2 separate regions of the Homo sapiens genome follow, and region 2 is linked to region 1. A link means that fine-mapping ties the variant in region 1 to the expression of a gene that starts in the linked region. Tissue or cell type: prefrontal cortex. Region 1 holds a variant in brackets; the other region holds the start of a gene. All regions are shown on one strand. Distances are from middle to middle.

The links. PIP is the estimated chance that this variant, and not a neighbour inherited with it, causes the effect.
Region 2: it holds the start of NOX4, and the variant in region 1 is fine-mapped to the expression of NOX4 in prefrontal cortex (CommonMind, PIP 0.95).

The regions. Positions count from the first base shown.
Region 1 is chr11:89,740,351-89,743,039 of GRCh38, reverse strand. No RefSeq gene overlaps it. Among named protein-coding and RNA genes, the nearest start is that of TRIM77, 31 kb to the right of the region's middle. The variant A/G (reference allele first, on the strand shown) is at 1,337.
Region 2 is chr11:89,489,862-89,492,550 of GRCh38, reverse strand. It overlaps NOX4 (NADPH oxidase 4), which reads left to right and starts at 1,176. Exons shown (of 18, transcript NM_016931.5): 1 at 1,176-1,361; 2 at 1,998-2,093. The coding sequence starts at 1,305. RefSeq lists enhancers at 218-924, 925-1,631.

The DNA.
Region 1 (2,689 bases):
TCCAGTCTTCTGTTACACACAGCTCATGGAAACTGCTAAACACACTGAGATCCAGTTTAGAGGCATTTCTTGTTTACACATTTTTAAAAATTTCACCTTAAAATTCTGAAAATATAGAGAGGTACAGTGTGCTTTCAGACTATTTCCAAACTTCTAAAGAAAAACAGAGAAAAACTAGGTTAACAAAATTAAAATTCATGAACAATATTTACAACAACACAGGGTAACAATGTGCCCTACAAAAAATCCCCAGTGTAAATAGTGACAGACAAATCAGGAAGACCTGCAATATCCATGAGGAATCAGAATCCTTTCAAGATGAAGCAGAGGGTGAACACAATATATTATGGATTTGAGAACCCCCAAGTCAGCAACAAGGATTTATTAGAAAGTGGGCAAGGCAATTAAAAAACAGCTACGGAAACTAAGTAGGGTGGGAGTTTGCACACATCAATAAGCAAGAGTCCAGGATGAGATAAAAAAGAGGCTGGGACCATATGGCTTCTACAACTCTTAAAATAACCAGACCAAATTCTCTTCCAGGATCAAGTTCCGTATTGAGAAGAATTTACTGTAAGTAAACTACATATTAAACAAGGCTGACACAATAGGGCCAAAAAAAGAGAAGGCCTCTAAAAAGTAAGTGGGGACAGAAGCAGAACCAGGACAGAGCAAAAAGTGAAAGGTCTTATTATTGAATATCTTATAAAATCAACAGGAGAGCTCTAGATTCAGGATGCTAGGAAAGCTATCTTGACCGATCTTTACCTTATAAAAGTTCAAGTTTAATTCCATACAAATGGCATCAATACGGCATGCTTTTGTTGTTGTTTGTTTCTTATTTAAGGAGAGTGCAGAGGGAAGAAAGTGCCTTTCCCAAAATAGTATACCTTGATATGACTGTTCATGAAGTAACGTCTAGTGTTTTTAAAAGAACCTTAGTGCCAGGGCTACAGTGAGCTTATATTCTGCAGCTGCAACCTTGAGAGAAGTGCTTCTGGGCAGTCCTCTTTGTTTCCTTCCCAGCAGAACCTCAGCCCCACCTCACTGGATCCAGCTCCATCACTGTGCCTGGCCACCTCAAGTTATTCCTGAAGGTCAATTTCTGGAGTATGTCCTAATCCTCTCCTCCTCCAAGCACCCCTCTTGGTCCCTGCAATATCCCTCCCGAACCCCCACCTAAAAGCCTTTCTGCCTGCCCTTGTCCCATAATACCTCACCCAAGAATGTATTATAAGCCAGCGTGGTGGCTCACACCTACAATCCCAGCACTTTGGGTGGCCTAGGCAGACGGATTGCCTGAGGCAAGAAGTTCGAGACCAGCCTGGCCAACAAG[A/G]TGAAACCCCCTCTCTACTAAAAATACAAAAATCAGCAGGGTGTGTTGACACATGCCTGTACTCTCAGCTAGTCAGGAGGCGGAGGCATGAGAATAGCTTGAACGTGGGAGGCAGAATTTGCAGTGATAGAGATAGCGGCACTGAACTTCAGCCTGAGCAACAGAGTGATGACACAGTGAGAAAAAAAATGAGAAATAGGAAGAGGCAGAGGTAGGTATCTATCTACATATCGATATATCTATGTATTTAGTTATGTATAATATATATGCATATTATACATGTACATGAATATATGCATTATATGTTGCTTAATATGTAGTTTACTTCCATTATTATATATATAGTACATTATACATGCATATATGAGAGAGAGATCTCAAATTGATAGAATCCCTAATAACAAGCAGCTACCACCCCCATTTTTCACAATGGCTAATTACTTTACTGCGTGATTTACTCTCAGATATGGTACTGAGGACCACGAGGTATATCCAGCAAATTATCTGCAAATTCAAGTGCAAGTTTTTGGCTTTAGAAAATGTTTCAAATCAGTCAGTTACACTTGGGAAATGAGGTTAGGAATATGCACCCAAAGGGTTGATCTTAACTATTCATTATCACTAGTGGGAAAATTCTGGAGATTAAGGGATGTTTGGGGTGGCTGTCTTGCTCTGAGAGGGGTATGGGTGGGGAATGGATTTATCCTCTTTTCCTTTTGTGTTAATAATGGTGGGAGATTTTGGTTACTGTGAATAGTACCTACATGAGCTGGATAAATCATGAGCACTAAAGGTTTTGGGAGGGTAAAGAGAGGGGCTGCAGGGACTGCAGGGAGGAGGGACCGGGGCTTTTTCAGAAAGTTTGCAGAGAGAAAGCAGTCAGCTTCTCTGTCCATCATCCACAGCTCCAGGATTAAAGAAAACTCTGCTTTCTCCCTGCACATTCTCTTTGTATCTGCAAGAGAAAGTAGATGGGTTAAAATTAGTGAACTGAAATTAGTATTTTCCAGAAAGACAATTGAATCACTACCAAGATATGTAAAGGCAACTGGGGCCTTGTGAGGCCACCCAAACCAGCCTCCATCCAGGGTAATGAAAGGGGATCCAGTTGTCCCCAAAGCTGGAGATTTCAGGTAATTAGGAAAGAGCCAAGGAGGCAGTGGAGGGGTCAGGTTAAAATAAAACGCCTTGTGTAATATCTGCATTAATGGGCCAGGCTAGGAAAGAAAAACTGGTAAATATAAGTTGATAGAAGAAAAATAGGAGAGAAAGTTTTATTTTATTTTTTAAAATAACTTTCTGAAACCAACTTTATTTATGTGAGTTTTATGGAAGAAAGGACTAGAATTAATA
Region 2 (2,689 bases), 250 kb after region 1:
TTTTGATTTTTAAAACTGAGGACTGCAATCATTAATCAGTTCATTAAATTAATTGGAATAAGTATATTGCATGTAGTGAGAGTAGTAGTATTTTTTGAAATTTTAGTTTTAATTATATCCTATGGCCTGTGTTGTAAGATTTTTTATTTTAAGAGTTTAAAAGCCATTCGATTAAGCAACTAGTAGTAAACTTTTCTGTCTCTCATTAGTTGTTAAATCTAGAAAAGTTATTGGTTTAACAAACCTTTATTGGATATCTATTTTGCATCAGATTTTTTTCTACATGAATGACATTTTTTTCTCTCTCTTTTCTAATACTGATTTGTTGCAGTGTCGAATAGGTACCTGGGTCAACTCCACACACTTCTCACTCTTCACTGGACCTCTGGTACAAGATTGAGAGGATTCCTATTACTTACAAACAGACTAGGTATTAAAACAAAAAGATTCCCGAATAGAGTGAACCTAACCTAGAGCCCCTAAGAATTACATCAGCTTTAACCATTAATTCCCTGGGTTCTTCTTATTCAGTAATGTCTTAAAACCTTTTTATCAGTATGGGATGGGCGGGCAAGGGGATAAAGAAACTGGCGGCTGGTGGGAAGCCTTAGGTAAGGCTGTCAGGGGGGCTTTAGTTTGGGAGTGGGATAATTTGCTGAGGAAGGGTGGGAGAAACGTGAACTAGCACACAAAAGGCTGTTTCCGGCTCAAATTTCGTTACCAAGGCTCTTTGAGATGAACTTTTTTGGGGGAAAACAATCAGTCTAAAAGAGCTGTGTCTTCTTGTGTGTGTGTGTGTGTGTGTGTGTGTGTGTGTGTGTGTACAAGGGGGCGGCGAGGGTCCCCACTTTTAGTATGAGTAGCATTGTTCACATGTTTGCCAGTATTTTGGAGCCTGGCAGGCCTGGGTAGAGGCTGCGGGGGACGCCTCCAAGTTCCCACCCGGGACATCCTGAACAGCAGCAGCCACAACAACAGGCTCGCCCCTAGACAAAGGGGCCGGCGCGGCGGAGCAGACTGGTGCAGCCTGGGCCGCGCGCTCAGAGCGCTGGGCGTCTGGGCAGCTGAGTGGGCAGAGCTGACCCGGTGCGGGTGGGAGTCAGGGCGCCCGGAAAACCCGGCTCTGGGTAGCAGACCCCGCCCGGGCTGGCTCGGCGCCGGGCCTTCGGGCTTCCACTCAGTCTTTGACCCTCGGTCCTCGCTCAGCGGCCCGGCAGGCCGCACAACTGTAACCGCTGCCCCGGCCGCCGCCCGCTCCTTCTCGGTCCGGCGGGCACAGAGCGCAGCGCGGCGGGGCCGGCGGCATGGCTGTGTCCTGGAGGAGCTGGCTCGCCAACGAAGGGGTTAAACACCTCTGCCTGGTAGGATGGCGGGCTAGGCTCTCCTTGCGTTCTCTCTGTCCTGCAGTGATTTTGATTCATTCTCTGAGCGTGCACGGGTGGGAAGCTGGAAGTGGAAGTTTTGTCTTAATTCGAACATTCTCAACTTACAAAACTTTATGCTGGAGATAACAATGAACACTCCCCCTCCCACCCCCTCGCCTGTCCCCCAAATGCATGAGAATTTTTCTGCACATTGATGGGAGAGATGTGGAGGAAGAGGGAAGAGGTCATTTTCCGTGAATACAGCTTTTCTTTTTACCCTTTAAACATTTTTGCTCCCTTTGTTCTTTTCCCAGATTACTTCTGTTTGCTTGGGGTATGGTGATGTCATTAATTTCTTAATCTCATTTTGTACGGCAGGGGATAGCTGTAAATCATTTAGGAAACCTATTTGCAACCCAAATGCTTAGTCTCAGGTGAAAGGGCTGGGTAAAGTCAGATTTGTTTTCCTCTGAGTGGTTTTCAGCTTGCTGGTTAATTGAAAATGCTTTCTGCAGTTACTGATTTAGGTTCCATTGAAAGCACTGTGTCGAAGAATTTACCTGTGGTTTCTATTCATCAGGTAATAATTATTTTCAATTTTTGTTTTCTGTCTCTCATGTCTGATTGGTTTAGTTCATCTGGCTCTCCATGAATGTCCTGCTTTTCTGGAAAACCTTCTTGCTGTATAACCAAGGGCCAGAGTATCACTACCTCCACCAGATGTTGGGGGTAAGTAAGGTGAACTTGGATAATCTGGTGGAATGGGTTTAACACTGGCAGACATTGCTACAGGTTTGGTCAGTTCCATTCATTAAAGAAATGTGCACTCTTCACTTTGAAAACCTTTGTTGTTCTCTAAAGTGGTCACATTTTCCTGATTTATCATTTACACTTGTACAAGTTAAAAAGATTGACTCTCTCAAGAACCAAAGGTAATATCTGCTGAAGTGAAACGAATGAACCTGCCAGACCAGGTTATTGGTGCCTTAAAAAAATTGCTACTTATTGCCAGCTGCTAAGTACCCTGAAGGATCTGATTCACTAGGAGGATCAACCAATAACAAGCTTTTAGTATATACTTATCAGTGCTTTTAGCCTGCTCATGAGCTTATCCAGAGGATTTCTGCACTGTTTGTTTTTACTGACAACTCTCACAAAATATGGGTCTAATGGGGTTATTCATTTCTGGGCAGTTCTCAGTGCTTGCTTTGGGTTAGTGGCTGATGATATTCCAGTATTCTACTATAATATGAGAAAGATACTGGGCAAAACTTTTTTCTGATTTATTTTATGTTAATATTTTTCTTTCTTTTCTATGATGTTTC